Homo sapiens: one gene and its partners. The protein of the gene in region 1 purifies or fractionates together with the protein of each later gene. This does not show direct contact. Each region holds a gene or a part of one and is shown on either strand. Other genes may lie near its edges.

Evidence for each region.
Region 2: the proteins of WDR3 (region 1) and NSUN5 fractionate together in Homo sapiens (co-fractionation; one large-scale study listed by BioGRID). This does not show direct contact.
Region 3: the proteins of WDR3 (region 1) and EIF4E purify together in Homo sapiens (affinity purification with mass spectrometry; one large-scale study listed by BioGRID and IntAct). This does not show direct contact.
Region 4: the proteins of WDR3 (region 1) and CLNS1A purify together in Homo sapiens (affinity purification with mass spectrometry; one large-scale study listed by BioGRID and IntAct). This does not show direct contact.

The regions. Positions count from the first base shown.
Region 1 is NC_000001.11:117,947,376-117,955,302, forward strand, and holds part of WDR3 (WD repeat-containing protein 3), read left to right. Parts: intron 1-1,029; coding exon 1,030-1,131; intron 1,132-2,375; coding exon 2,376-2,461; intron 2,462-2,619; coding exon 2,620-2,755; intron 2,756-3,458; coding exon 3,459-3,515; intron 3,516-4,600; coding exon 4,601-4,701; intron 4,702-4,921; coding exon 4,922-5,033; intron 5,034-5,152; coding exon 5,153-5,287; intron 5,288-5,570; coding exon 5,571-5,621; intron 5,622-6,100; coding exon 6,101-6,166; intron 6,167-6,214; exon of another isoform or gene 6,215-6,631; coding exon 6,632-6,724; intron 6,725-7,204; coding exon 7,205-7,252; intron 7,253-7,712; exon of another isoform or gene 7,713-7,855; intron 7,856-7,927. UniProt on the Homo sapiens protein: Part of the small subunit (SSU) processome, first precursor of the small eukaryotic ribosomal subunit.
Region 2 is NC_000007.14:73,305,922-73,314,642, forward strand, and holds the start of NSUN5 (28S rRNA (cytosine-C(5))-methyltransferase), read right to left. Parts: upstream 2,906-8,721; 5' UTR 2,870-2,905; coding exon 2,777-2,869; intron 2,633-2,776; coding exon 2,510-2,632; intron 1,837-2,509; coding exon 1,662-1,836; intron 1,582-1,661; coding exon 1,473-1,581; intron 1-1,472. Other genes in the region: E3 ubiquitin-protein ligase TRIM50, read right to left, coding at 7,000-7,589. UniProt on the Homo sapiens protein: S-adenosyl-L-methionine-dependent methyltransferase that specifically methylates the C(5) position of cytosine 3782 (m5C3782) in 28S rRNA. m5C3782 promotes protein translation without affecting ribosome biogenesis and fidelity.
Region 3 is NC_000004.12:98,895,885-98,903,811, reverse strand, and holds part of EIF4E (eukaryotic translation initiation factor 4E), read left to right. Parts: intron 1-1,829; coding exon 1,830-1,936; intron 1,937-7,927. UniProt on the Homo sapiens protein: Acts in the cytoplasm to initiate and regulate protein synthesis and is required in the nucleus for export of a subset of mRNAs from the nucleus to the cytoplasm which promotes processes such as RNA capping, processing and splicing.
Region 4 is NC_000011.10:77,628,935-77,636,861, reverse strand, and holds part of CLNS1A (methylosome subunit pICln), read left to right. Parts: intron 1-6,962; coding exon 6,963-7,099; intron 7,100-7,927. UniProt on the Homo sapiens protein: Involved in both the assembly of spliceosomal snRNPs and the methylation of Sm proteins.

The DNA of each region.
Region 1 (7,927 bases):
ATGGATCACAATGGATATTTCTTGCTTCAACAAAAAAATGTAGGCTGGAGAGATTTTAGGAACAATGCCAGGAAACAGTATTCACATCTCAAAACTTTCCTTCCTTTTTCACTCTTTCAACAAATGTCCATCTCTGATTTGCCGTCGGGAAAGTAGTTTTTTAATTGCTTAAGACTACCCATGTGGCTAAAATGCAATTGTCGGCTTACTGGCTGTGCTAGGCAATTAATGTACATTATCTCATTTAATCCTGACAACATCTTTGAAACATTGGTGATATAAATTTCATTTTACAGATGAAAAACTAGGTTCATGGGGATGAATTTACCAATGGGCACAAAGCAGACCTGGTACTCAAGTCTTTTAGCTTATGCTGTCTGTACCACCTTGTGCAGAAGCTCATCGTAAAACAGGCTTTGCCTCTGTGTGTGTTACATGCTGACACCATGACTATGGCATATACAGACCTCTAAATAGGAATTTTAGAGTGATTGCTTTCTATGCCATTATGATTTTTTTTTAAATTCACTGCCTTCCTTAGTGCTGTAGGTAGATCCCATTTCTTATTGTCAATGTATTGCAGAGGAGGAAACCAAAAGCAGATGGAAAAGAGGTGGTTGCTTAAGCCAATAACTATAGAGGATCATCCGCTTAAAGGATTGGCTAAACTTTAAAGGCTTTTAGGTTTGCATTTGCTATTTTGTTTATTCTGATTTGCCTATGGTCATGATATTTTCCTTGTGAAGTTGTGTAACCAATGAAAGTAATGCATCCAGTACTGCATGGTGGTATTATTCCATACTTCTACACTATGGTAGCCCTGCCAAGGTTAACCCAGCACATCAGTAGGGGATTTAATAGTATTTAATCAGGTAGGAAATACAGAACATGGAATGTGGGATCCATTTCCTAAGCAATGGATCACATTTTTGCAGCTTGGTTATGAAGTCTTTTCTAAATTGTGCAGTCATGAATCATGGAGGTTGTACGTATGTTCATTGGAGCTGTGCTCATTTTGTGTCTTCCCAGACAGGGAAGCTGCAGCTTTATGACTTGGCTTCAGGGAATCTGCTGGAGACAATAGATGCACATGATGGAGCTTTGTGGTCCATGTCCCTCTCTCCAGATCAGGTAACTAAACCAGATTTTAAAGCCCTGGAGTTCAGCCCTGTGGCTACCCTGATTTCTCTCAGGGTTTCTTTAAAGAAAGCCTGAGGTTTTTTTTTTTTTTTGGTCTAATCTTTAGTGTTTGTATATGATGCCTTCTTATAAATGACCACCTGTCATTATGAAATGAAATCTTGTTTGGCTACTTTTGCTTATCAGCAGCGTGACATCAAATTGCTTACCATCATGATTTTTTTGCCAATGTTTTGTAATACTTCTTAAGGGGGAATATTCTCTTGGGCAACATGATGCAGAGAACTGAATAGACTTTGCTGCTCCCCTTTTTTCCTCAAACAAACATCTATGACTGTATAAGCTAAGTAGTTTTAGCAAGTATGTCAGCCCTTACAAGTCAATAAATATGTGCTCACCTTCAGAGCAGTTCCTGGCAAAAGTATGCTTATTCTAATAATGGTGCTGTTGCTTAGAAAATCTTGAGATTTTTTTTTTTGACAACACCTTAAGAAATTTTGGCCCATTTATTTAAATATTCTCAATGATAGACAATTTTCATCCGTTGAAAGTAGAACTTAGTTTTGGAAAAAATCACTGAAGTTTAGAGTGTTTAATACCACTTGGGGTCCAAACGAAACAGCTGTGAGTCTAAAATAGTAATAAATCTTGCATTTGTAGAGTGTTCTATCTTTTCCATAAACTGTGTGGTCTTTTTTTCAACAAAACTAGGGATTTACGGAAAGGTTGTTTCCTGTGTTATAAATCTATGAGGGACAGACACTTGAGATCCAGTGTTCTATGTACTTTACACTAACACTGCCATGTAATGAGACTAATTTTCTTGATAACGGAAAACAGCTTCAAAACTATTTTAAGTAGGGACATTGCAGGACTAAATTTATATCCTTCTGAGGTGAATACTTTAAACAAATCTAGATTATCCATTCTATGTATATTTTTCAAACTGGTTTACTGAGAGTTTTTGTTTCTTCTTGATGCTAGATAATAGTATAACTAGAACTTTTCATTAGTTATTATTTCTGCCTATGTTAGTCGATGGTAGGAATTTTCACATAAGGTTTGTGGCAGCAGACCCAAAAGATCAGTGAAAGGGGCTAGGGAGAACCACGTTTTTCTTAATTTTTATCCCATGACGTTAAATAAAAATACTTTCTTAGACTTTTAAAATGTATCTTCATAGCAAAGTTTTTATGCTAAAATAGTTTTTAATTGAAATTTCATTTGATTTTCAGCGTGGCTTTGTGACAGGTGGTGCAGATAAATCTGTCAAATTCTGGGATTTTGAGTTAGTGAAAGATGAAAATAGTACCCAAAAGAGGTGAGTAGACATTTTTTGTGTCCATTTTTTGGAGTGAAAATGGGGAGCTATGGAATGGCCTTTTGACGTCTTATATCATTTGTTGTGCTCTAAAGAGTTAGGATTTGTCTGAATTTGTATACTCATTTATTTTTTCTTGATGTTTTTTGTGGTGCTAGACTTTCTGTGAAGCAAACCCGAACTTTGCAACTAGATGAAGATGTTCTGTGTGTCAGTTACTCTCCCAATCAAAAGCTATTGGCTGTGTCTTTGCTGGACTGTACTGTGAAAATTTTCTACGTTGATACTTTAAAGGTACAGTGGTTATGCCTGCGGATATTTTCCCTTTCTGACTGACTGACCTTAAGAATTTGGGTTGAGGCTATAAAGAAGTGGCCTTGACTGTGCCCAGCGATAGTACATTTCTAAAAATGTGTGTGTGAATCAAAGCAATGTAACTATGCTAGGGAAGCTAGCATTTTAAAATAATTCTATGGTTCATGAATTTTGTTTAAAGCAAGTTATATTTCATATGTTCAAAAAATCTTGTGGACAGAAAATTCTGTCATACTAAGTAGTTATAAGAGCATTGCTAGGTGTCCTGGGCAGTGATTTCACACTTGGCTATATATTAGGATCATCTAGGTTGCTTTTAAAAATATAGATTACTGAGCCCTATACCCAGAGAGTTGATAGGACCAGGTTGGGCCTGGGAAATTTTTTTGTGAAACAAATGCCCTGGAATCTTTTCAGTGAGGAGATACAGAGATCTGACTGAGGCAGTAAGCTTCTGGGGGCTTCCTTGCCTCCACTATACTGCAGTATTCTTGGCAAGCACATGGAGGGTCTGTGTAGTGGACACAGGTACTCCTGCCAAGCTGTCTTTTGTGGGTTGTCTTTGAAAATACAGATATAAAGCAATTTAAAAATGTGTTTAAAGTTATATTTTAGACCTACATGTAATAAATTATACCCATATTTTATAGACAGACATTAATTATGTTTTTTTGATGTTTAGTTTTTTCTGTCACTGTATGGACACAAACTGCCTGTTATATGCATGGACATCTCTCATGTAAGTAGTTTAAATAGTGTCTCAGTAATATGTTGTCTTTTTTACAGCAGATACTTTCTTAATTCTGGCTTGATGTCTTCATCTTAGATTATTTGTTTTTATCATCATTCTGTTATATATCTTTCTCCAAAAACAGTCTCAAATTAATATATATTGTATCTTATATATATTACTTTAATGTTTTCAGAATAATTTTGCAAATATCATCTCAATCAATCCTTATAAATATTATCTCTTTCCCTCTTGTAGCTCTCCCAAATAGTACTTTATTGTTTAAAATACTATAATTGGTAGAGTACACTAAAATATGAAAGACTTTAAAAAGGCATTCCTTTTTATTCTGAAGGATAATGCTGCTGAGGAGCTCGGATTTATATTTGGATAGTTACGGTATTTTACACTATGTAGACTTTTGGTCTCTTGACCAAAATCATTTATTTCCCAATACCTAGTTTTGATTAGGAGTGGCAATGTATATTAAAAACAATGTCTATTCTGCAGAGTGAGACTCCGTCTCAAAAAAAAAAAAAAAGTCTATTCTGTGTGAAAGGAGTTGACCTCATAGCTGTCTGTGGTCAGTGCACTAACAAAGTTAAGTTACAATGTTAAATGTATTTCTTTTTTTTTTTTTTTTTATGTTGACAACCATTTGGACCACGCATTGAAATAGGAGAGATAAGAGAAATACTGATAGGGAATGTGGGCTACATAAACATTCTAGTAGAGTCTTTCTCAGCTTCTCTTCTGTTTCTTTCTCCCACTTTCTTTCCAAATCCCATGCCAGAGATTAGAAAATCTTTTTCCTATCTAACGAAGTAAATAGATAACCCTATGTCAAGGCACAGCACTGCCCTGTGACAGTACGAAAGTATTTAAGCCACAGAGTTCGTGCTTTTACTTAACAAGCTTTTTAAGTTCCTCTGTAGGTAAGAGCAAAGAATTCAGTGTTTTTAGTAGAGATGAAAATCAGTTTTTTGGCTTCATTTTAATGTGTTTGAAAGAAATGGGTTAAATATTCTGGTTAGCTTTTTATTCATATACGGAATTCAAAAATCAAGGTAGTGTTTTACTTTTATTTCTCATAGGATGGAGCACTCATAGCAACTGGCTCCGCTGATAGGAATGTGAAAATCTGGGGTTTGGACTTTGGGGACTGCCACAAGTCTCTCTTTGCACATGATGACAGGTATGTATAGTCTTTTCAAATGTCTCCCTTTGAGTCACCTGTAAGTTATCACTTTCCTTGAGCATCTGTGTCTATTTTTCAGTGTTCTCAGGCAGTGATACAAGTTCTAAAATATAGTCAGACACCCTAGAACTAGCTAGTCAAAAGCTATTTATGTGTGTAAAACTCTTTTTACTAACCTGGAATTTGATGACATTTTAATATTTCTGTCACTTTTCAGTGTGATGTACCTACAGTTTGTACCCAAGTCTCACCTCTTCTTCACTGCCGGAAAAGATCATAAGATTAAACAGTGGGATGCAGACAAATTTGAACACATACAGACTCTGGAGGTAACCACATGCCTTCTGTGCTTGCTTGGTACTTAAGAAATACTTTTAAGAATATTTACATTACCCACTAAGTAGTGGTCAATGAATGAGGTATTCTTTATTTTTTTTTTCTCCTCCAGGGTCATCACCAGGAAATATGGTGTTTGGCTGTAAGCCCCAGTGGAGACTATGTTGTATCATCGTCCCATGACAAATCTCTGAGACTTTGGGAGAGAACAAGGGAGCCTCTTATTCTTGAGGAAGAAAGGGAGATGGTAAGAACTTTAGGCTTGGTTACAAATATGCCAGTAGGTATCTGACAGGCTGTCCTAGTTGAAGTTTTCTGTCTAGTGCAGTTACACCTGATGCATTGCCAAGTCCAAGAACCTTCAGGAGATCTTTTCAAGACCATTGTCACCCATTTCAGAAGCTAGGCAGAGATAAAGATGCCATTAGGGTATTATGTTGTCAAAGGAGCAGCTTCTCGCTTCCTCATTTCTCTTCATATAGAGACCATGTTTTTTTCTCTCAAATTAATGTATATCTATCTCATGGCAGGAAAGAGAAGCAGAATATGAGGAGAGTGTGGCCAAAGAAGACCAACCAGCAGTAAGTAAATTTTGGGGACCTTGAGATTATGCCCCATATATAGTTATCTTATTGAAATTGACTATAATGTCCAGAATTTCTAATAGAATTAAAATTGAGGCTAGAAGTTGCAGGTATCACCAGCTGATAAAGAATCTGTGTAATTCTTTCTCTTCAACTGTATATCCTAATTTTGTGGTTCAAGTGATTGACCAAATTTGCTACTGAATAATTATTCTGTCAATTGAGACTTTAGGGAATTATTTTATTCACTGTAGCACAAAAATAAAAATTAGAAAATTTGGATATTCTCTTTTTAAACATTTGCAGGATGTTCTTACAATAATACATATGCTAAGTTCTGTTACTGGTAGCTGATAACACTGTTAGTATTTTCATAAAATAATAATAGCTGTTCTCATATGGATGTAAGATTAATTTATCAGCTCTTTAACTCAACAGTCAACAGTGTTATTCAAGGATTTCTTTGTTTCTGGCAGGTTCCAGGAGAGACTCAAGGTGACAGTTACTTTACTGGAAAGAAAACTATTGAAACAGTGAAAGCAGTAAGTTGATATAGAATGTGGTATCTCGTTTTTTAATAAGATCTCAACTTTTTAGTAAAAGTTTTATTCTGTATCAACCAGAAAGCCATTTTTTTGGCAAAAAGTTGATGAGATTTAAAGATGGGGATTATAACCTGTTTCCTTCTCTTGTAACCAAAGATGGGAGTAGTCCTGAATCTCTTTGATCAATATGTGCTCCTTTCAGGTGTTCCTGGGACCTGCCCTATTCAGAGTGTCTAGATATCATCCCACCTGAGTCCATGACACTCAGTCTCTTCCCTGTACATTAAAAAATAAGAAAACCAAAAATGTCTTTAAATGCTTTTTGGCACTCTATTCGCACGTCTTTATTAAACAGATTGAAGCTATTTCATTTGGCAAATTTCTGGTCAGTTCTTCCAGTTTCAGTGTCCTGGGATGATGGAGTATGTTGTGATGACTTCTTTCCTTTCTCATCCTCTGTAGGCTGAGAGGATTATGGAGGCTATTGAGTTGTACCGAGAAGAAACTGCAAAAATGAAGGAACACAAAGCCATTTGTAAAGCTGCAGGGAAAGAGGTAATAAGAGAGTACAGTAAGTTACAGTATCAATAAAGGGAATTCCCAAGGAGAAAAACCATTGTTTTGGGATTTATTAACTAAGATCAGGATATGCAATAAATGGAATAGAATCTTTCCAACTCACTATATTAGAAGAAATTGAGGAAGTGTGGGAAGAAGGGAACTTGGTCTTAATGAAAGCGAAGGAAAGGAAATTACAGATTGAGGTGATTATTGTCTTGAGTAGAAACCCACGTTCTATGTTGGTTTGGGAGGCAGGGTAACCATTTCAGATTTCTAGATAAAATACATTGTCCAAGCTCATTCATGAGTACTATAGAAACTAACAGGTTTGATAATTCTTTTACACTCTGTCAGTTTTTTAGGGTCTCTTTTTTCCCTTTTCAAAATTATAAAATACAGTTACCACTCTGTCTATAACAAGTGCTACCTAAGTCTCAGTTTTTTTAATGACTTGATTTAATAATTTCTTCATAGGTTCCACTTCCCAGCAACCCCATCCTAATGGCTTATGGCAGTATCTCAGTGAGTAAAATGTCTAACGGTTTTCCTTTGTTTATTAAAAGGTTACTTACAAGGACAAGAAAGGAAGTAGAGGCATTATGATTTGGGGATGGATTATTGGGAATACTTTGTCTTCAAAAGTCTCTTTTGAATCTTGGCATTCTCTAGGATATTTTGTATTTCAAAAGGACCACTTTAGTGTGACTTCCCAAGCCAGCCTTTTTGGTTGGACTGGACTGGCATTCTTCTGTTTTCTAGTGCCTGTTTATGTTCAGTGTCCAAAGCCCTCTGAAGATTCTGTTAATCTAAATTAACTTTTGAATCAGCCTTCAGAAGGAAAGTTGACAGAAATCAGTCTGATGAGATAAAGAAGAGAGAGAGGGGAAGAGTGATGGGAGAATGTATGTTTATCTAGTAATCTCTAATTAGTATTTTATTGCATGTCTCATCACAGTAATTTTGTGAGTCAGGGTATCTTCACCTTATAGATAAGGAATCTGGCTTGACTTGTAGCATAGTTGGTAAGGGGCAGAGTTCAGTTGTCAACCCAGATCTGACTGACTCTAAACTCATGCAGATCTTGCCATTTTAGAATACTTTTTCTGAAGTAAGAAGGAGGGGTTCCTGTTTTATAGGAGATAGAAATTAGAGAACTTTAGTAGAAACCAACCAAGAGTATCACTAATGGTATTAATC
Region 2 (8,721 bases), on another chromosome or scaffold:
CAGAGGCTGCTTCTCAGAGCCAACGAAGGACAAAACGAGACAGGTGTGAGCCCAGTGGAGGAGGCACGGGGCAGGGACCAGCCACTGTTGCTGGCACACTGGTGCACGCAGCACCGTGGCAGATGGACCTGAGAGAAAGCAGGAGGGACAGCACAGTGGAGCCAAGAAAGGGCTTAGCATGGCCGGGCACGGTGACTCACACCTGTAATCCCAGCACTTTGGGAGGCCGAGGCGGGCAGATCACCTGAAGTCAGGAGCCTCGAGACCAGCCTGACCAACATGGAGAAACCCCGTCTCTACTAAAAATACAAAATTAGCCGGGCGTGGTGCTGCATCCCTGTAATCCCAGCTACTCAGGAGGCTGAGGCAGGAGAATTGCTTGAACCCAGGAGGCAGAGGTTGCAGTGAGCCGAGATTGCGCCATTGCACTCCAGCCTGGGCAACAAGAGCAAAACCCTTGTCTCAAAAAAAAAAAAAAAAAAAAAAAAAAAAAGCTTAGCAGAGGAGTAACAGCATCAGATCTGGCTTTAGAGCTTCCTACAGTCAACCTCAAGGAAAATGCAGTGAGACAGTCTGGAAGCAGAGAAACCAGTCTGGGAAGTTCTTGTGGTCATCCCAATAAGAAATGAGTGCTTAACCTAGGCAGTGTCCGAGGGGCTGAAGAGAAAGGAGTGGAGGCCAGATGTGGTGGCTCACGCCTGTAATCCGAGCACTTTGGGAGACCAAGGCGGGCAGATCACCTGAGTTCAGGAGTTTCAGACCAGCATGGCCAACATGGTGAAACCTCATCTCTACTGCAAATACAAAAATTAGCTGGACATTGGTGGTGGGAGCCTCTAATTCCAGCTACTCAGGAGGCTGAGGCAGGAGCATCGCTTGAACCCGGGAGGCAGTGAGCCAAGATCATGCCACTGCACTCCAGCTTGGATGACAGAGTGAGACTCAGTCTAAAAAAAAAAGAGAGAAAGGAGTGGAGCTGAGAAAGATGCTCAAGGTAGGGGAGTAAATGATTGGAGGGAGGAGAAGGAAGCACCTAGGATGACTCAGTTTCTGGCTTGACCAAATGGGTGGAAGATGGTGACATCTGTTAGATTTAACTGGGGATGTACTAGGTGTAAAGTCTGAGAGGAAAGATGACAAATGCAGCGACTGTTAGCATCTGTGGTGCGTTCATATGAACCTGAGGAGGTAAGAATGCAAGAGGGAAGTCTACACTGGGTGGTGAGAATCACCAGGTGGGAGGCAGGAGTTAAAGCTAGAGAAAAAACGGAGAGATCAAGAAGAATGTAGGATGAGGCTCCTAGGAGTTCGATGTTTAAGGGATGGCAGGAAGACAAACCTTGGAGATGGATAAACTGCTGGAAAGGTAGGAAGAAAGCCCAGAGAGCAAAGTCACAACTATCCAGCCACTTCTCTTCCCAATACCCCAGACACCTCCCTAGATGAGGACAGCCAGGGCTCTAAGCTCTCACCTGGAAGCCCGACCCTGATAGGAGAAACCTTGTCTCTTGAAATAATCAACTACATCATCGGAGCAGGTCTTGAGAGTGTTCACACGCACAAATCGAGGCAGCTGGGAGGCTACGTAGGACGCAATGAGCAGTGAGTAGGCAGGAGCAAAGTTCCCCGCCTCCCCCACCCCCCAACTCCTTCCAGCTTACCTGGACCAGGCCTGGATCCCACTTCCAACAGGTCCTCATTCCGGCTCACACCCCGATGAACCTTGAGCCGAGCCAACTCAGCCTTGAGCCTCGCCTGGTGCCGGCCCAACAGAGCCTTCCATCGGCCCCCACCCCCTCGAAAGCCCTTTCCCAACAACAACTCATACACTAGCACCTGGGAATGAGGGAACAAAGACAAAAACAAAAATGCCCTAAGCATGAAGCATGAATGCCTTAGAACTAACTCTAATGGAGCCCCGGCAATGGAATGGCTAAACAGATCACCTGACAAGATACAGGTGGGATACCTTATCCAAGATCACACCAGAAATTAACTACAGAACAGGATCGGAACCTGGCGTCTCGCTTCCCAGCCTTAGACCCTTTCTCCACCGATGTTCACCAGTAGACACCTCTGCACCCAACTTCTTGCCAACATTACCCTTTCGTGGGTTTGGGTTTTCTTTTTAGAATGGGGTCTAGCTCTGTCGCCCAGGCTGAAGTGCAGTGGCCAGATCATAGCTCACTGCAGCTTCGACCTCCTGGGCTCAAGTGATCCTCCTCCCTCAGCCTCCCGAGTAGCTGGGACCACAGGTGCGCGCCGCCACGCCCGACTTCCTTACAGTCTCCGCCACTACCACTTTGTACTTCGGTTATTTAATCCTTCAAAACACTCAAAGTTAAAGCATTTTCATCCCATCTTAATTCGTAACCCAGGGAAGGTCGGCTCATACTCATTTCAGATGAGCGACTTGCTCCAGTCCCGCCGTGCACGGCAGCAGAGCTGAGACCAGATGACAAAGCGCTGACCGTCGGGGTTCACTTCCCCGTCCCTCCCCTCCCCTCACCTTGGCCAGGTGCGGCCGCAGCTTCTTCTCCGCACGGAGGAGGCCGGCGCTGGCGATCACAGCATCCAGCACGGCGGAGTAGCGCTGCGTTTCGCACACCAGCGCGTACAGCTGCTTCACGTTCTGTGTGGCCGAGGAAGACAAGCTGGGTGGGGGCTCCCCCGGCCCTCCTCGCCGGGCCCCACCTCCCGACCCCACCCGGGCCCGTCCGACCCCACCCCGGGTTCCTCACTCCCCACCCCTACTACTCGCGCCCAGGTCCGCTACCTGGAAGTTGCTGGAGTACACCAACCCCTTGATAGAGCCCTGGCGGCTCTCCACGCCGGCCAACACGCCTGCAGCTGCAGCATACAGCCCCATGTTCCCGCGCGCCTTTACGGCTCTGTGGCAAAACGCACCCGGCTCGGCGCCCGCCCGGACTTCCGGGGTCAAAAAGCACGACCTTCCGGGACCGGAAGTGCCGGTCGAAGTCGCCCTGCAAGGCGTGTGTGTGATCGCGCACCTGCCGGGGTAGGGAGTGCGACGCTGCAGCCCGTTTCGCCACTTCTTCTCTAGTTCTTAAGTTTTTGCCAATCTGATGGGCAAATAATGGGATTTTACTGCTGTTTAACTGAAGTTACTGAGGTTAAATATCTTCACATGTGTATTAGTCATTATATATATATATATATATATATAATTTTTTTTTGACACAGAGTCTCACTCTGTCGCGCAGTGTCGCAATCGCGGCACACTGCAACCTCCGCCTCCCGGGTTCAAGCAATTCTCCTGCCTCAGCCTCCCGAGTAGCTGGGACTACAGGCCCACGCCACCACACCTGGCTAATTTTTGTATTTTTAGTAGAGATGGGGTTTCACTATGTTTGCCAGGTTGGCCTTGAACTCCTGACCTTAGGTGATCTGCCCACCCTGGCCTCCCAAAGTTCTGGGATTACAGGCATGAGCCCCCGCGCTGGCCATAATTTTGTGTCTCCGTTTATTGTCTTATCTTCCTCTGCCATGTGTCATCCAATGGCTGTGTTCTCAGGGAGGCTTCTGTGTAATGGCAAAAAAGGTCCTAGCAACTCTAGGTCCACAATGTGGTTTACAATACCTGCCATTCACCCTGCACCAGTAACCACATTAGTCCCAGAGCCAAGCAAGAAAGCACGTGGGGTATTTGGGTACCTGAAATGGGCCGGTTTGGCCAAATTAAGTGATGTAGGTATGATCCAGGCCTCAAAGCCACAATAACGGTTTTGTTTTTGTTTTTGATGAGGTCCCACTCCGTCACCCAGGCTGGAGTGCAGTGGCACCGTCATAGCTCACTGCAGCCTCAAACTCCAGGGCTCAAGCGATCCTCCCACTTCACTCTCCAAGTAGCTGGGACTACAGGCATGCACCACCACTCCTAGCTAATTTTATCTTTTGTAGAGATGTGGTCTCACCATGTTGCCCATGGATGGTCTCGAACTCCTGGCCTAAAGTGATCTTCCCACCTCGGCTTCCCAAAGCAGTGATTACAGGCATGAACCACTGTGCCCAGCGAGGATTTTATTCTTTTATCTTGAAAGAAATGGTAGTCCTCTTAAGGTTTTTAAGTCATGGAGTGCTGTGCTAACATATACTTCTTTAAAAGATCAGTCTGGCCAGGTGTGGTGGCTCACACCTGTAATCCTAGCACTTTGGGAGGCCAATGCAGGCAGATCACTTGAGGTCAGGAGTTCAAGACCAGCCTGGCCAACATGACAAAACCCCGTCTCTACTAAAAATACAAAGATTAGCCAGGCATGGTGGTAGACACCTGTAATCTCAGCTACTTGGGAGGCTGAAGCAGGAGAACCATTTGAACCTGGGAGGCTGGGGTTGCAGTAAGCTGAGATTGTGCCACTGCACTCCAGCCAGGGGGATAGAGCAAGATTCTTTCCCCAAAAAATAAATAATCAGTCTGGTTACAGTGTGGGGATATAGGATGGAGGGGGCAGAGTTGAGGCAGGGAGAGACCAATGGGGGTCATGGGAGTCACCTAAACAAGAACTGGTGGCCTGGACTGAGTTGGTGGCAGTGGAGTTAGGTTGAAATTGGCAGTGTGACCGCTAAGTTAAATCCACAGAACTTGCTCAGGAAAAAGGACAGGTCGAGAATAACTCGTAGGTTTTCAGTTTGGGCAGTTCACACAATGCTGCTGTGTCTTTTGGTAGGATGGGGAAACGTGGGGTGATGGAGTGAACAACGGCCACCCAGAGAGAGCAGGTCCTAATTCCTAGAGCCTGGAAATGTCACCTTCTATGGAAGAGATCTGTAGGAATGATCAGGGGAAGGATTTGGAGAGAAGGTTATCCTCGATTATCTGGGCAGGTCCTGCATGGCATCACCAGTATCCCTATAAGAGAGAGGCAGAGGAAGGACAAGCGCAGTGACTCACACCTGTAATCCCAGCACTTTGGGAGGCCGAGGCTGGCAGATCCCTTGAGCCCAGGAGTTCGCAACCAGCCTGGCCAACATGGTGAAACCCCATCTCTACTAAAAATACAAAAATTTGCCAGGTGTGGTGGTGCATGCCTGTAATCCCTGCTACTCAGGAGGCTGAGGCAAAAGAATTGCTTGAACCTGGGAGGCGGAGGTTGCAGTGAGCTGGGATCATACCACTGCACTCCAGCCTGGGCAACAGAGCAAGACTCTGTCTCAAAAAAAAAAAAAAAAAAAAAAAAAAAAAAAAAAAAAATAAGAAGCAGAGGAAGATTAGACCGGCACATACAGAAAAGGCCACGTGAAGACGGAGGCAGAGATTGGAATGATGCGGCCACAGGGCCAGGAAACACCAGGGCATGGCAGCCACCACCTGAAGCTGAAGAGGAAAGGGGCAGGTTTTCCCCGACAGTCTCCAGAGGGAGCGCGGCCTTGCCGTCATCGTGATCTTGGACATCTGGCCTTCAGAACCATGAGAGATTAAATTTGTTTGAAGCCACCAAGTTTGTGGTCATTTGTTACAGTAGCCACAGGACACCACAGCCACAGGATAAATCTCAGGGATGGGGGAGTAGGAAGATCATGAGCGCGGTTTTGGACATGCCCTTGACGTCCAGGCGGAGCTGCTGAATGGCTGGAGCGCTACTGGATGTGGCATGTAAGGGACGGGTCTCCCGGAGAGGGAACTTCTGAGTCATCCCTGTGGAAGTGATGACTGGAGCTATGGGTGTGGAGGGGTAGACAGCCAGAAGAGGAGCCTGGAGGTCCTCAGGCCATGAGTGGCCAGGAGGAGAGGCTGAATCCTTGAAGGAGACTGAGGAGAGGAGGGAGGAAAGTCAGGATTGTGGGGAGGCTGAGGGTTGCTGTTTGCCCCAGCTAGTCTCCCTCAGGCCCTCTTATTGGTCTGTGCACCCAGTTTGACTTCCAGTGGCCAGAGCCAGCATCTTGGTTAGAGGGCTACCCCAGAGCTTCCAGGACCCACTTAGCCTGTGGGTATGGTGAGTCAAAGGGGCATGACAGCCTAGGCACAGTGGCTCACACCTGTAATCCCAGCGCTTTGGCAGGCCAAGGTGGGAGGATTGCTTGAGGCCCAGACCAGCCTGGGTAACATAGCAAGATCCCGTCTCTACTAAAAATTTAAATATTAGCTGGGTATGGTGGCAGACACTTGTTGTCTCAGCTACTCAGGAGGCTGAGGCAGGAGGATCACTTGAGCCTGAGAGGTCAAGGCTGCAGTAAGCTACAATTGTGCCACTGCTCTCCAGCCTGGGTGACAGAGCAAGATCCTGTCTCTGAAACTAGACTCGAGGCTGGGCACGGTGGCTCACGCCTGTAATCCCAGCACTTTGGGAGGCTGAGACAAGTAAATAATTTGAGGTCAGGAGTTCAAGACCAGCCTGGCCAACACAGCGAAACCCCATCTCTACTAAAAATACAAAAATTAGCTGGGTATGGGGCACATGCCTATAATCCCAGCTACTCGGGAGGCTGAGGCAGGAGAATCACTTGAATCCGGGAGGTGTAGGTTTCAGTGAGCCTACATCGTGCCACTGCACTCCAGCCTAGGTGACAGAGAGAGACTCCATCTCAGGAAAAAAAAAAAAAAAAAAAGACTCGAGCATAAAGCAGTATGTATAGCAACTAATATGTGCAAATCATTTAAAGAGAAAGAAATAATGTCAAATTTATTATCCTTGATAGTAGTTGAAAGTTCACAGTAATATGGAAAAGGTATACATGGGACTATTTCTGCCCTCGGAAGCGTCTGCGCAGATAGCATGGTTAGCAAGTGGCAGGAACCATGGGGATTTCAGTGTGTCCCTGGCTGCCAAGGCCTGGGGGCCGAAGTTTACAAATACACCCTTGGCTGAGGGGAAAGGGACTGGGGTCCTGTTCCCTATCATTACATGTTCCAGGGACACACAGGCCTGAAGACCTTCCTAAACAGTGACGATATCACCTCAGGCGGGACCCAGCAGAAGCCCGCGAGTCCCCGGTGCCCCGCCGGGATGGGCCTGTGGGCCGGCAGGACTCCGGGCGGCCCTACAGCTTGGTGGGCTGCTCGGGGCTGAGGGGGCCAGGCCCGCTGGGCGGGGGCAGCACCATGGGCAGCGAGTTGCTGCCCCTCTCGTGCCAGCAGGTGTCCAGGATGGGGTAGAGCTTGCCCTGGAAGTCGGCCTGGAAGGTGTAGAGCGGCCGCAGGTCATCGGGGCGGTCGGCATCGAAGAAGGTGAGTTCGCCCTGCTCATAGTGCAGGTAGAGCCCGATGCGGTGGGGGTGGCCGGCCACGGGCAGGGGTACCCGGGGGCAGGCAAAGGCTTCGTACACCCGGCCCTCCTTCAGGCCGATCAGCCACACGCCGTGCTCGGGGGACCTGTTCAGCTTGCCCTTACGGCTGGCTGTGCCCTTGATGACCCCCAGGCGCCAGTCGCTCTTGCTGCCCACCACCACCTCCCAGTAGTGGCGGCCGCAGGAGAAGCCGCGGCTGGCCAGGACGCAGGTGCTGTAGTCGAAGCGCTCAGGCTGGCTGGCTCGCCGCTGGGCCAGAAGCCCGCACTGCACCACCGTGTTGCCCTTGGAGAGCTCCAGGAGTGGGTGGGCAGTGGCAGGGTCCAACTTGAGAGGCTCCGGGGCTGGGAGGGAGATCACAGAGGGTCTGTGAGGCCACGTGGAGGGCAGCAGACCCGGCCCACAGAAGCTGATGGAGGCCCTGAACTCCCCAAGGAGAGGGGCTGTGTCTTCCTCATCTCTCTAGCCCCAGGGTCTAGAAGGGGCCAGTACAGGGCTGCTCCCTGAATGAATGAATGAATGAATGAATGAATGAATGAATGAAGTTTTACATAAGGAAGATCAATCACAGACTGATTGCATCCACCCAAGGCAAAAACAGTGTTTATATAAAAGGGAGCAGCTTGGTGGGCTGTGGGGGGCTGAGGTGGCTGGAGAAAGAAATGGACACTGGGCTCGGGGTTCTGGCCTGCCTGCCTGACACAGAGGTGTTGTGGGAAGGACCCGGAAGACACCTGTCCTGTGAGCCTATAGCTCAGCCCTCAGGGATTTCTGGAGAACCCATAACAACTGCAGCTGTTGGATTTGCTAGCCTAGTCAGCCTATTCAAGGACGAACTAGCCCACCTGAGCTTTTTGCTAGTTACCAGCTGATCCGTTTACCCCAGAAATGTGAGATGTGCTCCCCCCTGCCCGCCTCCCACCCCTTCCCGCCACCCAAGTTGCCGCAAGGAAAGAAGGCCAAGGGGAAGAAGGTGGCTCCGGCCCCTGCTGGCGTGAAGAAGCAGGAGGCCAAGAAAGTGGTTTATCCCGTTTGAGAAAAGGCCTAAGACTTTTGGCACTGGACAGGACTTCCAGGCCAAAACGGACCTCGCCCACTTTGTGCAATGGTCCTGCTCGGTCAGGGTGCAGTGGCGGACAGCCATCCTCTATAAGTAGCAGAAACTGTCTCCTGCTATTAACCAGTTCACCCAGGCCCTGGACCGCCAAACAGCTATTCAGCTGCTTAAGCTGGCCCAGAAGTACAGACCAGGGGCAAAGCAAGAGAAGAAGCAGAGACTGTTGGCCCTGACTGAGAAGAAAGCTGCCAGCAAAGGGGATGTCCCCACTAAGAGGCCACCTGTCCTTGGAGCAGGAATTAACACCGTCACCACCTTGATGGAGAACAAGAACGCTCAGCTGGGCCAGGCACAGTGGCTCATGCCTGTCATCTCAGCACTTTGGGAGGCTGAGACAGGCAGATCACTTGAGGCCAGGA
Region 3 (7,927 bases), on another chromosome or scaffold:
ACTTACTGTATGTCAATTTTCAGGCCTTAATCATTCTGTGTAAACATTTAAATTTATTCAGTTAAGTAATCAAGTTAATAAGTTCCTGTTGGGTTAAGTACTGTGATTATTGAGTAAAATCAAGACATGGTCTCCGTTCTGGGTGACTTTATAGGCTAATAGAAATTCTTGTACATGTCATATGTTGATAAGAAAAAACATATCCCTTGGGAGGCCAAGGTGGGAGGATTGCTTGAGCTCAGGAGTTTGAGACCAGCCTGGCCAACATGGTGAGACCTTGTCTCTACTAAAAATAAAAAAGAATTAGCCAGGTATCATGGTGCCTATCTGTAGTCCCAGTTACCGTGGAAGCTGAGGCAAGAAGATTGCTTGAGCCAGGGAGATTGAGGCTGCAGTGAGCTATGAGTGAGACCCCATCTCTAAGAAAAATAAAATACAAAAAAAAAAAAAACCCATATTCTTTCAAATAAATATTTACCACCTTTCTGCTCTGCATTCTTTTAGACAATAAATATTTGACTTACATATCTTGTTATGTTAACATAGATCTCTGTTGTTTGCTGCTTCAGTCTGATATCCAAACACTTGTTGCATTGCCCTTTTTTTGGTATCAGTCTTTGTCCTAGTGCCTTTCTTTGGCTCTCTTCTTTTGTTGACAACAATTTATGATAGTATGAAGAGCTACATGGAAGAATGTGGTGAACACCTATTTTAAATTACTGCCCCCAGACTACTTTTCTTTCTGATATTTTTAGATGACAGTGTTAATTTTGTCTAGCCTAAAAGAAGATTTAAGTTCAAGCCAATGTCCATCTTGTTAGGTTCCATTGAAAATATTAAGTTGCCGAACTTTTAGGTTACGATAGGGTAAACAGTATGCCATGAAGGTAAGACCTGCGCATCATTGGCTTGATCACTTTACAAAGCTTTTTTGTCATCATAATGTTGTTTTGTTTTGTTTTGTTTGTTTTTGAGACAGGGTCTTGCCGTGTTGCCCAGGCTGGTCTCAAACTCCTGGGCTCAAGCAATCCTCCTATTAATCCTCCTATTAATCTCCCGAGTAGCTGGGATTGTAGAGACGCACCACAGTGCCCAGTGATACAGTTGTTATACTCTTGAAACTTTAGTTTCCATCCTGTATCCTTCCTGATACCCCCTTCAGTACCATATGCAGTATCTTAATATGATGGTATGTTAAGAAAGATAGAAGATTTTCCCAACTTTGTTGCATAGTCTGTGACAGTCTTCCTGCTATTTAAAAAAAAAAGTGCAAGTGGAAGGATAACTATAAATACTGTTATATTTTCAAATTTGAGAAACCGTTTGCTCTTTGCTCTTAATGAAGAGATATGAGAATAGAGAATGGTTCTTTAGAGTTTGGTCTGTGGTCTGTTTTATGAAGCAATCTGCTTTAATTCCTTCTTCTTAAAAAATACTACTAGTGCCGGGTGTGGTGGCTCACGCCTGTAATCCCAGCACTTTGGGAGGCCAAGGCAGGTGAATCACAAGGTCAGGAGTTCAAGACCAGCCTGACCAACGGGGTGAAACCCCGTCTCTACTAAAAATACAAAAATTAGCCAGGCATGGTGGCACACATCTGTAATCCCAGCTACTTAGGAGGCTGAGGCAGGAGAACTGCTTGAACCTGGGAGGAGGAGGAGGTTGCAGTGAGCCAAGATCGCACGACTGCACTCCAGCCTGGGCAACAGAGAGAGACTCTGTCTCAAAAAAAAAAAATTATCAGCATATCAGTTCAGGTTTAGTTAGAATATTGCTGTCATAGATGTGTTAAGACATTTAAAATAATGTTTTATATTATTTTCCACTAGGAAACCACCCCTACTCCTAATCCCCCGACTACAGAAGAGGAGAAAACGGAATCTAATCAGGAGGTTGCTAACCCAGAACACTATATTAAACATCCCCTACAGAACAGGTAAGCTTTCTAACACCTAGGTTTTCTGAGTTAGGCCACAAGGTAAATTGTGAATGGGGCAAGTTTGAAGGGAAAGTTAGATTATGAGACTAGTTTTAGATATGCTAAGGTTGAGGGTTCTATTTTCACTTGGATGACCCATGACCAGCAGACAGTTTTATGTGTGAGTCTTGAGTTCAAAAGGAGCTATGTGAGAGATTAGTTTGAAAAGTATTGGTCATAATGGAAGCCACATTAGTAAATAAGTTCCCTTAAGGAGAAGTGAACTTGACTCAGGACAAAGACCGGGGATACTAGCATCATATAGGAGGCTTTTGTTGAAGAAGAATGCCTATGAAGGATGGACATACAAAGACAGTGGTGGTCGCCCAACGCGGTGGCTCACGCCTGTAAACCCAGCACTTCAGGAGGCGGAGGCGGAGGCGGAGGCGGGCGGATCACCTGAGGTCAGGAGTTTGAGACCAACCTGGCCAACATGGTGAAACCCCGTCTCTACTAAAAAATACAAAAATTAGCTGGGTATGGTGGCAGACGCCTGTAATCCCAGCTGCTCGGGAGGCTGAGGTGAGATAATTGCTTGAACCCAGGAGGTGCAGGTTGCAGTGAACTGAGATCGCGCCATTGCCTGCCAGCCTGGGCAACAAGAGCGAAACTCCATCTCAAAAAAAAAAAAAAGAGACAGTGGTGGTCATGGAAACCAAGAAGGTGGTTTATTCTAAGATAGGGTGGTTTACAGCACATGTGCTAAAAAGGTCAAATGAAGCAAGATGTCAAAATATCCATTGGATTGAACACTTTTAAAAAAGTCCGTGCTGACTTGGGAAAAAGTTTTTTAGTAAGGTTCCATAGAGTAGTTCCATAAAACATGGAAAAAGAGATTAGGGCAGTTTGAAGAGTGAATAGGAGATATACAGATGTATAGAGTAAGAACAGGTGACTTGAAGTTGGACTGAGAATGAGAAACGAGAGCCAGGGAATGTGGAGTTTGAAGGTTGGTTGGTTTGTAAGTGAGAGACTAGAAAAGGGGACAGATTAAAATTAGTTAAGTTTTCATAGTTAATAGTGTAACAGGAAATTGAGTATTAGTTCATTATATGGCTTTTCCCAACTCTTCCCACTCCTTTCCAGTAGGTTTGTTTTTATTTATTTTCTGGGGTATATGAGAATTAACTTGAGTTCACTGAATGCTGATGGTGGGAAGAAAATGGCAGTTCAGAAACATTGTAACAATCTAGAGGAAAGTAAATTGGAATTAACTTCTGAGGTTCTTGAAGTATTTCAGTTCATTTCTTGTCTTTTTTTGTTTTTATTTACTTTTTTTAGGGCAGACCATTCACTCTCTACTTAAAAGAGTCCACAAGTCTATTTATAATTGTTTCATTTATTAAAATTTTTTTATGATCTCAATTTTTTTAAATGTTTCCTTTATTCATCATGGAAGACCTACTGAAATAAATAGTTCAAATATGCTGTATGCAGTTTTCTCATAGGAGACCCTTTGGTTCAGTATATCCTCCAGTGAGGAACAAATCAGTTTTTTAGACAATGGAGATTCTCAGCTAGTGGGACATCAGAGGTCAAACAGTCTATAAAGGATAAAATCCTTCCTCAGGGAAGCAATGTACCACATGTATTAGGTTGAACAATTCGTTAGAGGCAGTCTTATATAGTTTAACCTAATAGTAGCACCAAAACCCACATTTTTTTTTCATTTTTTTCAGTGATATGAAACAAACTGTATATCTTCTAGCTGTCTGTGAACCTAGTTCTTGGTGTCACTTTTATTGTGGGGAGAAGTAAACAAGGCATATATCCCTCACAGCTTGAATGGAGTCTAAGAAGGGATTCTTAAGTGTCCTCATCAGTTTAAAAAAAAAAAAAAAGTTTAAATCTTAAAATGAAGTCTCTGGGGACTTCAGTTTCTCTATAAATTCTACTTTTTGTGTAAAATAGCAAGTATCATTTGGAAAAATACTATGTTTTATGGCTCCAATTTTGGCAGTTTTCTCATTATTTACTTCTTGCATTTTACTTTCTTCACTCCCCAGAGTAGTCAATGTTAAATTTGGTTTGTATTCCAGAAGTATTAAATGCACATATGTATACTTTTTAATACATACGTCTATACAGTTGACTTTTCTGTTTGTATGTGCATATTTTACCTCATTGTTTTAAACCACCGTCTTGCATTATATTGATATACCACCATATATTTTATTAGGTTTACATTAATGGCTGTATAGATTTTTCTTTTTACACACAGTGCTGTAATTTACATCCTTACATAATTGTGCACTTGTGTGAATATATAGGGTAAAATTTCAGATCTCCTAGAACAAAGATTACCCTTTAACAACCTTTGCGCAGATACTGCCACATTATTCTGTTTTATTGGCTTAGACTTAACAGTTTGAGAGTTCCTGGTTTCTATATCCTTGCTAACTCATGTGATTAGTCTTTTAAGTTGTTGCCAATCAGATTGGTCCCAGTCTGATTTGGGAAAACAATTTCAGTATTTTCAATTTGCATTTTAAAATTGAAGTTTCAAAATATTTTCATATTGATGATTTGTGGTTTTTATCTGAGGACAGATTATTCAGTTCTTCTATTTTTTTTCTTTTGGATTATCTTTTTTTTCCCCTACTTTCAAGCTAACAAGTTATGGAATATCTTTTCAAGTTTATTTCCAAGCATTTTATATTAGAGTGCTAACTCACCCAAGGCAGGGAAGTTGGAGGAGTATTAAGTCAGAAAGAAACAGGTTATCCATATCATTTGTCTTCTAACATTGTCTGTGGAATTGTATGGTTTTTTTTTTTTTAGAGGTCTTTAATTTTCATGTAGGCAAATACTGCTTTTCCTCAGTGGTTTCTGGGTTTCATATCAATTTTAGGAAAACTTTACCACACAGTTAAGCTTTTTTTTTTAAACTTTTTAATAGTTGCATAGTAGTCACTTGCGTGGATGTATGATATTTTATTTAAATCAGCAGTACTCAAGTATTTGGTCTCACAATTCCTTTACACTCTTAAAAATTATTGGTGACTCTACAGAGCTTTATGTGGATTTTTATCTATTGTTATTTACTATATTTTTACAGTAAATAATGCTAAGATGTTATTTTATTTTTCACATTTAAAAATGTATAATTTCACCTGAAAAACTTGAGAAATGTAAAATTATTCGTTTAGAAAATCTATCACATGTTAACCTAAGTGACATTTTGTAATGAAAATAATTATTTGAAATAAAAAATATATAATGGGAAGAACAGCATTTTTGCCATCTGTTTTTTTTTTTTTCGGAGTCTCGCCCTGTCGCCCAGGCTGGACCTCCACCTCCCGGGTTCAAGCGATTCTTCTGCCTCAGCCTCCCTAGTAGCCGGAACCACAGGTGTGTGCCACCATGCCCGGCTAATTTTTGTAGTTTCTAATAGAGACGGGGTTTCACCATGTTGGCCAGGCTGATCTTGAACTCCTGACCTCATGATCCACCCACCTCGGCCTCGCAAAGTGCTGGGATTACAGGCATGAGCCACCGCACCTGGCCGCATTTTTGCCGTCTTAGAAGTCAACTGGATTTTCATAGCTGTTTCTGCCTTCAGTCTATGGAGTTAAGATGTTTCATTGGAAGTATAAGAAGACAATACAGCCTCACACAGGTATTTGGTTGGAAAAGGGAGAATAGTTTTTAAAAGCCTTTAAAAATAATTGTTGATATGCTCCTTTGATACACTACTAGGTTTCTTTTTTCCCCCCCCTTTTTCGTAGGACACATGCTCAAAGAGATACTAGGTTTCTTAGAGGCTAGTTGCAATGTGGAATCTGAAACCATATCCAAGAATTTTTTTCTACTTTGTTACATTAAAATCCATTGGTCTGTCAGTGTCTTGCATCTGGAATGGATCTCTTACCTGTGTAAGATTTTTAACATCATACACTGCTTATTTGGAAAATAATGGTTCAGTGAGTTATGCAGATCTTCCAATGTTGACACATTTTCTTATATAGTATCAAACAATAATAATTCATTAATATTACCTCTAAACTCATTAAGCGTCTTTGATTTTTAGGAAGTTGTCAGGCTTACAGTGGCAGATGAAATCTTTCTAAAATTCTGATTTTTCTACTGAAAGCTTAAATTTTAAGCAACAATCTTAAGTTCAGACAATTGCCTAAATATTGTATTTTGTTTTACAGTAGTGGAAGTGGTTTTTGTGCAGATTATGAAAAATATGGAAATAGAATGAAATTTAATGAAACTGGTAATGTTTATTGCCTCATCAAAGTCATTCCTTTTTTTTTGTTCTCAAGACGGAGTTTCACTTTGTTGCCTAGGCTGGAGTGCAATGGTGCGATCTTGGCTCACTGCAACCTCCGCCTCCTGGGTTCATTCTCATGCGTCTGCCTCCCAAGTAGCTGGGATTGCAGGCACCTGCCACCATGCCCATCTAATTTTTGTATTTTTAGTAGAGACAGGGTTTCACCATGATGGCCAAGCTGGTCTTGAACTCCTGACCTCAGGTGATCCACCCACCTCAGCCTCCCAAAGTGCTAGAATTACAGGTGTGAGCCACCATGCCTGGCCCAAAGGCATTCTTATATGAAACTCACATTATTAGTACTGTGAGAGTTGGTAGTAATAAATGTACAGTGACTACTCGTATAGTTTTGTGTCACTGTCTTGGTTCTTGCTAAGGCACCAGCAGATTTAACTACTGTTGCTTTTGCACCGTTAGTGCAAATGTGAATACTGAAAAGCAAAGTGCCTTCTTAGCATTATTATGAAAATGGATCTTAGGGCCTCCTGCCTGTCTGCAGACCACATTTTGAGAACTGCTGATTTAAATAATTCCTTGTTGATAAGCACTTAAGATGTTTTCAAATTTTCCAAAACTAAAAACGTCATTTGTTTGTTTTTGAAGACAGGGTCTCACTCTGTCACCCAGGCTGGGGTGGCGTGTAATCTCGGCTCACTGCAGCCTTCACCTTCCGTACCCAAGCCATCTTTCCACCCCAGCTGGGGCCCCACAGGCATGCACCACCACCATTTTAGTATTTTTTGTAGAGTTGGAGTTTTGCTATTTCCCAGGCTGGCCTTGAACTCGTAGACTCAAGCAATTCATCCACCTCGGCCTCGCAAAATACTGGGATTACAGGCATGAACCAACATGCCTGGCTTTTTTTTTTTTTTTTTTTTTTTTTTTTTGGAAGAGACATGGTCCCATTCTGTCGCCCAGACTGGGGAGCAGTGGCATGATAATAGCTCACTGCAGCCTCAAATTTCTGGGCTCAAATGACCTTCCCACATCAGCTTTCTAAGTAGCTAGGTCCACAGGTGTGCACCACCATGGCTAGCTAAGGTGTTTTTTTTTTTTTTTTTTTTTTTTGAGAGATGCGGGGTCTTGCTATGTTGCTCAGGCTGTTCTCAAACTCCTGACCTCAAGCAGTCCTTTCCCCTTCCCCTTCCATTCCCTGTCCCTGTCCCCATCCCTGTCCCATTCCTTGACAGGGTCTTGCTCTATCACTCACGTTGGCGTGCAGTGGCATGATCATAGCTCACTGCAACCTCGAACTCTTTGGCTCAAGCAATCCTCCTGCCTTGGCCTCCAGAGTGGCAGGGACTATAGACACATGCCATCATGCCTAGCTTATTTTATTTTATTTTATTTTATTTTATTGGAGATGGAGCCTCGCTCTGTCACCAGGCTGGAGTGCAGTGGTGCGATCTCGGCTCACTGCAACCTCCGCCTCCCAGGTTCAAGCGATTCTCCTGCCTCAGCCTCCTGAGTAGCTGGGACTACAGGCGCGTGCCACCACGCCTAGCCAATTTTTGTATTTTTAGTAGAGACGGGGTTTCACCGTGTTGGCCAGGATGGTCTCGATCTCTTGACCTCATGATCCACCCACCTTGGCCTCCCAAAGTGCTGGGATTACGGGCGTGAGCCACTGCGCCCAGCCCATGCCTGGCTAATTTTTTAAATGTCTAGTA
Region 4 (7,927 bases), on another chromosome or scaffold:
TTGACATGCAGTTTTCTTTATTTTGAAGCCTGTAATGACACATCGAATCTTTCCTGCCCTTCAGATATGTGTTGCTTCCCCTTTTGCTCCATCACTTGTCTACAGCCAGAGAAAATTCTCTACTTTTAAGAGCTCATGTGATTACTTTGGAACCACCTGTAAAATCCAGGATAATCTCCCTATGTTACTGTCGACTGGTAACCTTAATTACGTTTGTGAAGTCCCTTTTGCTGTGTAATATAACATATTCACCCGCATGACACCAGAAAGTGAAGGTCGTGGGGCCAAAATTCTGCCTACTACAGAATCCAGAGCACAAAAACTGTAAAGAACCTCTGCTTTAAAGGGAAATTTAGACATTGAACAAGGTTTAGGCTTCAGGCCAGAAACTGAGATAGGACATATGGATGGGAGGAAAAGCAAGATTGAGGTGAGAGGCAGATAATGAGTTTGGTCAGGACATGTGTGGAGTAGTTGTACATATGACCGTGTTGGGCCGGGCGCGGTGGCTCACACCTGTAATCCCAGCACTTTGGGAGGCTGAGGCAGGCAGATCGCTTGAGCCCAGGAGTTTGAGATCAGCCTGGGCAGCATGGCGAAACCCAGTCTCTACAAAAAATACAAAAATTAGCCAGGCATGGTGGCGGCCTGTAGTCCTAGCTACTCAGGAAACTGAGGTGGGAGGATCACCTGAGCCCAGGAGGTCGAGGCTGCGGTGAGCCGTGATTGTGCCCCTGCACTCCAGCCTGCATGACAGAGTGAGACCCTGTCTCAAAAAAAAAATAAAAATAAAAAAAGAATGTGTATCTTGGGAAAGTGGTATTAAAGAGAGATGTTTGGAGGTCGTTAAAGTGTTAGTGTATACTCATGGAAATGGATTAGATATCTCAGAAGAGAAGAGGACCAAGTGTAGAACCCTAGGGATACGCCGACGGGTGGGTCATGAAAGAAGAAACTTGAGAAAGGAGGAAGGAGCAGTCAAAACAAAATGTGAAGAGCATATATTGAGTATTGACAAGGAGATCTTTGATAATTGGGGAAAGCAGTTTCTTTGAAGTGGTGGAAGATGGAGCACAGATACATTCCTAGTTCCCAGGCATTCCTTTTTTATTCATGACATTTCTGTATGTTGACGCTTCTTTCAGTATTATAACTCCTTTTGAGGGACAGTCCTGTATTGATTTTTGCATTTAGAAGAATTTCAAACCTAAGATCCAGTGTGGTGGCTCACGCCTGTAATACCAGCACTTTGGGAGGCTGAGGCGGGTGGATCACCTGATGACAGGAGTTCAAGACCAGCCTGGCCAACAATGTGAAACCCTGTCTCTACTAAAATACAAAAATTATCCGGGTGTGGTGGCGTGCACCTGTAATCCCAGCTACTTGGGAGGCTGAGGCAGGAGAATCGCTTGAACCCGAGAGGCGGAGGTTGTAGTAAGCCGAGATCATGCCATTGCATTCCAGCCTGGGTGACAGAGTGAGACTGTCTCAAAAAAAAAAAAAAAAGAAAAATTTCAAACCTAAAGAAAAGTTGTGTTATTACTACCCATACACCCTTCACAAAGATTTATTAGTTAACATTTTGCCATGTTTATGTCTCTGTTTTTCTTTTTTTTCTGAGCCATTTGAGAATTGTCGACGTTTTCCACTTCCTGTTCAGAAGAACAGGGACATTATCTTGTATAACCACAATACAATTCTCATACTAAGGAAGTATAACTCTTTTTAAGTTCTTATCAGCTTTTAAAAAATTCTTAGCCTGGGCAAGGTGGCTTACGCCTGTAATCGCAGCACTTCGGAAGGCCAAGGTGAGCAGATCCCTTGAGTCCAGGAGTTCTTGACCAGCCTGGACAACATGACAAAACCCCATCTCTGCAAAGAATACAAAAACTGCAAAAATTAGCCGGTCGTGGTTGCACGTGCCTGTAGTGGCAGTTACTATGGGGAGCTGAGGTGGGAGGATTACTTGAGCCTGGGCAGTTGAGGCTGCGGTGAGCTGTGATCACACTACTGCATTCCAGCCTGGGTGACAGAGTGAAACCTTGTCTCTGAAAAAAATTAAACATTATTTGTTTCAGCTTTTCACAAACAAATCTCTTATGTTTCTTCTTTAAGATTTTTTTTTTTTTTTTTTTTTTGAGACAGAGTCTTGTTCTGTCGCCCAGGCTGGAGTGCAGTGGCGCGACCTTGGCTCACTGCAAGCTCCGCCTCCCGGGTTTAAGCGATTCTCCTGCCTCAGCCTCCTGAGTAGCTGGGACTACAGACGTGCTCCACCACGCCCAGCTAATTTTTGTATTTTTAGTAGAGACGGGGTTTCACCATGTTGGCCAGGCTGGTCTCAAATTCCTGACCTCATGATCCACCCACCTTGGCCTCCCAAAGTGCTGGGATTACAGGCATGAGCCACCGTGCCCGGCCAAAATAATTTTTTTGTGTGTGAAACATAAATACAAAAAAAGGGTATAAATACACACACATACTGTGTACATATATATACAGTCCAGCCGTTCTTCATCTGAGGGAGTGAGGGAGAATGCCCAGAGATGATAAAGCTGGAGAAGGAGAGAGTCATGTTCATAAATTTGGCTTATAGCCTTTAGGCTTTGGTGAAACTATTTAGTTTGAGGCAGAGAGGGACAGCAACAGATTAGGTTTGGCTGGACTTGGTTTAGTCTCTCAGATTTGTGTTGAAAGATTTAGAATCTCCGGCTTATTTCAGAGCTTAGTTTTTTATAGGAAGTTGAATTTTTTTTTTTTTTTGAGATGAAGTTTCACTCTTGTTGCCCAGGCTGGAATGCAATGGCGCAATCTTGGCTCACCGCAACCTCCGCCTCCTGAGTTCAAGCTATTCTTTTGCCTCACCCTCCCGAGTAGCTGGGATTAACAGGCATGCACCACCATGCCTGGCTAATTTTGTATTTTTAGCAGAGATGGGATTTCTCCATGTTGGTCAGACTTGTCTCAAACTCCCGAACTTAGATGATCCATCTGCCTCGGCCTCCCAAGATGCTGGGATTATAGGTGTTAGCCACTGCACCCGGCCAGGAAGTTGAATTTTTATCCAAATAAGGAAGATACAGAGGCATGAATAATATAAAATAGACAGTTTAAAACAGGTAAAATAGGTAATCAAATTAAAATTAGGTAATTTAAACTTAAAATTTTTTTTTTGTATCTCATTCCAAAATTAATCTTAAACCAAATAATTAAGTTAACCCAAATTCAAGACCTCTCTTAGCTTCCTGTCCTGTTTTTCATCCCGTGCTGGGAATAAAGGACACTCACCATACTTGTGCAAAAGCATTTGAATTCAGCAAAACATGTTCTCTACATGTTTACTCTGTGTCTAATTCTTCTTGTCTTTCCCTTTTGACTCACGGTTTCTTTGGAACTGGGTATGATTAATTAAATGTTTTAGAAGGATTTCTTCTAGAATATATACAAAGAGTAAATGCAAATCAGAATTTAATGATCAGACAAAACAGTTATATTTTTAGATGATACAGTGAAATCTTTTATGTTTCTCTACATCACTTTGAAAGTTAGAACTTGAATACTTTCAGTAGATTTATTACAATCATCCCAGCAAACTTTAATGGCAGCATGTCTGGCCTATTTCATCGTGGCCTCTGCTAGAATTAGAAAATCTGGTGGTGGTGCAACAAATAATTCATGTGCAATAGGATTTAATTTGTTGTTAATAGGTATTTGTTCAAATTAAAATTGCCAGATTAAATGAATGTACTGTCAAATCTCTTTTTTTTTTTTTTTTTTTTTGAGATGGAGTCTCCCCGTTGCCCAGGCTTGAGTGTGGTAGCGTGATCTTGGTTCACTGCAACCTCCGCCTCCTGGATTCAACCAATTCTCCTGCCTCAGCCTCCCAAGTAGCTGGGATTACAGGTGCCTGCCACCACACCCAGCTAATTTTCGTATTTTTAATAGAGACAGGGTTTCGCCATGTTGGTAGTCTGGTCTGGAACTCCTGACCTCAGGTGATCCATCCACCTCGGCCTCCCAAAATGCTCCCAAAATTATAGGCCTGAGCCACCACGCTCGGCTTATAATGTCAAATCTTTTTTAACATAGTAACATGCTGTTGGAAAAAATAAGTTGTTGAAAGTAAGTTGTTTTCCCATTTAAAAATATCTGTGAATATTAATATATGATTTGCATTTGTAAATCTGAAAAAGTAAAATACAGAAACCTAGGGTTTCTTTTCTTTTTTTATTTAAAAAAAAAAGAATTTAACGATTAGAATAAGTGTTTTTAAGTGTGGAACTTGGCTTCTGTCCTATAGAATGCATAATCCCAGTTCATGTAAAAGATTATGAGAGTTCCATAGCAAATGCTGTGCAGAGGAGCATTTGTATTCTCTCTGCACTAGTAAGGAATTACAGAGGTATTATGATGGCTTTTAAAAGTGAAGGCCATAATTTGATAGGCACTCATTCTATGTTTAGGTTTCAGTTTTTCCATGTCGTCATTGAGTCATTCAAGTTTTATGGCTCTGGATATTTGAAATTATTTTGGACACCCAAATTTGGAATGTTTCTTTCTGAATTGTGATAACGCCAGAAAATTTTTGAGATCAGAAAAGGGCAGTTTATTTGCTTTAAAATAATACAGCTTTTGTAGGGGACTCGTGATACTTGGGCATTATTTCCTCTCCACATTAAAAGGAAAGCAGTGGGCAGGAAAGATGCATACAGCACATAACCTCATTACATAATACAATGTTTCTTTGGAACCAGTAGGAATGAGTTGTTCTGGAAAACAATTTGTAGAGGTTTTATCACTTTTAGCTCTTTAAGATTTATCACTTTTAGGCCAGGCGCAGTGGCTCACGCCTGTAATACTGGCACTTTGGGAGGCCGAGGTGGCAGATCACCTGAGGTCGGGAGTTTGAGACCAGCCTGGCCGTCATGGCAAAACCCCATCTCTATTAAAAATACAAAAATTAGCGAGGCGTGGTGTCACACGCTTGTAATCCCAGCTACTTGGGAGGCTGAGGCAGGAGAATCGCCTGAACCCTGGAGGTGGAGATTGCAGTGAGCCAAGATCATGCTACTGCACTCCAGCCTGGGTGACAGAGTGAGACTTCATCTCAAAAAAACAAAGATTTATCACTTATAAGCTTCCTAGTTTTCCTTTACTTTTTTTTTTTTAATAAGAATGTTGGATAGAAATCTTTCCACATGACAGTGCATATATTCTTACTTTTGCCTTTTGAAAGTATACAATTAGGGGCAGGGTGTGGTGGCTCATGCCTATAATCCCAGCACTTTGGGAGGCCGAGGCGGGTGGATCACGAGGTCAGGAGATCCAGACCATCCTGGCTAACACGGTGAAACCCCGTCTCTAAAAATACAAAAAATTAGCCGGGTGTGGTGGCGGGCGCCTGTAGTCCCAGCTACTGGGGAGGCTGAGGCAAGAGAATGGCGTGAACCCGAGAGGCGGAGCTTGCAGCGAGCCGAGATCCGCCACTGCACTCCAGCCTGGGCGACAGACCGAGACTCTGTCTAAAAAAAAAAAAAAAAGTATACAATTACGTAAGTTTTAGTATATTTACAGAGTTGTACAGTTATCACCACAATCTAATAATCTGCCTTTGTTTTTGGTAATGCTTTCGGTAACTGAGGGTCATGTGGTTAGACATTGATTTCATTTAGGGGAACTGAGGTGGAAAGTTCATCCTCCCCTTCCACTGAACATGAGTGATCTCAGACTGTCACACTGTCATTGTTCCTGCCCAAGGCAGTCCTAGGTTCTCCTGTTTTACTTTTGTTTTTGCTTGGTTAGAAATTAGACAGCCAGGCTTGTTAAAATTGTATAGAATATAGAATGATACAGGGGTCTTACTTCATTAACTTTTAAAAATAATTCATATAGCATACAGTTTAACCATTTAAACATACAATTCACTAGTTTTTAGTCTGTTTACAGAATTGTGCAATTATCACCACCATTTTAGAATATTTTCTTCACCCCAAAAAGAACCTGGTACCCAGTAGCAGACATTCCCTATTTCCTTCTAGCCCTAGGCAACCACTATATTGCATTAACATTTTTTTTTTGACTTCTTCAGGATTTTTTACTTTTTTTCTGCTAAGTGGTACAGCTCCAGATGGATGAAGTATTATCAGAAAATTAGCTAGCCTCTACTGAAAGCTCAAAATACTGATTTTGGTGATGTGTTTCCTTTGTTACACCAATAAAATATTTGCATTTGACCACATTTGAGGGAAAACTAGATCTAGCTTTTCTGTGGCTTTCTCTTAAAGACGTTGAATAAATGAAAGGCTTCAGGGAATCTGTCTCTCAGGGTAATAATTATTTCCTGACTTGCGGTGAGTGTGATTACAGCCATTTCATATATATGTCTTTTAGTGTAGGATTCATGGAGAAATGCATGATTACCAAGGATTTATTGCATACTTAACTCCTGAGCTCTTTGTTAACGGTTTTGAAGGATGTTAATAAAGGAATGTGACAAGTTCTGCTGTCCGATAGTTCACATTCCATAAGGGCACATATAAGACTCATTACCACAGAGTTAAGTGCTAAAATTTGCAAATCAGAAAAGGAAGAGATCTTTATGGACTGGTGTAGTTGAAGGGAGGCCTCATGGAAGAGGGGAGGATTTGCAAAAGCAAAGAGGGTATTTGAAGACATACCAAAAAAGAGTAAGCATGAAAGTCATAGAAACATACATGTGACTGAGGAAAATGGAATTTCAAGTCTGTTTGAATTTATAGCTAGAGGGAAAGAGACCGTAACAGAATTGATCTTAAAGAAAACTCAGTTTCCACTACTGAATTTTCTTATTTTATGAACGTTTCTAAAAAAGTAAACTTGAATTTATTTATATGCATAAAGGTGTCCAAGCTGAACTTTTATATACTTTGTGGTCTTACATGAGGATTTACTTTCTAAAAATAATCTACTTAAAACATGTTTTTCAGCCGCCTGTCTTGGTTAGATGGCTCTGGATTAGGATTCTCACTGGAATACCCCACCATTAGTTTACATGCATTATCCAGGGACCGAAGTGACTGTCTAGGAGAGCATTTGTATGTTATGGTGAATGCCAAATTTGAAGGTATGTATGGTGTAATTTAATCTAATGCCTCCTTTGATAGCAAATTATATTTTAAAAAAGAGTCTTTGAGGCCGGGCACGGTGGCTCACGCCTGTAATCCCAGCACTCTGGGAGGCCGAGGCGGGCGGATCACAAGGTCAGGAGATCGAGACCATCCTGGCTAATACGGTGAAAACCCGTCTCTACTAAAAAATACAAAAAATTAGCCAGGCGTGGTGGTGGGCGCCTGTAGTCCCAGCTACTCAGGAGACTGAGGCAGGAGAATGGTGTGAACCTGGGAGGTGGAGCTTGTAGTGAGCCGAGATCATGCCACTGCACTCCAGCCTGGGCGACAAAGTGAGACTCCGTCTAAAAAAAAAAAAAGAAAAAAAAGAGTCTTTGATAATAATCAATGTAACATTGAGGCCATTGACTCATTTTGGGTAGTAGTTTATTAAGCAAAATTTCAGCACAGCAACTTGGACACTTGAAGTTTTCACAATGGATGTTCATGTGTGTCTGTATATATTTCTCTATATTTACACTTAGAATTCTTCATTTATTATGGATATGTATTTCTAGCTTTTCCTCTAAAGTTTCACTGTTTATTCTGCCTTTCTCTTTTTAAAAGGCACCCTTAGGGGCTTGGATCAGTATACCCTGTGCTTCTCATAATTTAAGATAGAACTGTTTTGTTTTGTTTCAGTAGTGGGTCTCAGTGGTTGTAGGGGGGATATATTTTCCATGGGCCTCCACCAACCTCACCATTCCCCCACATTTGGCAGTGACATTTTGGTTGAAAGAGGAAGGGTATTATTGGTGTCTAGCAGTTAGATGCCAAGGATGCTA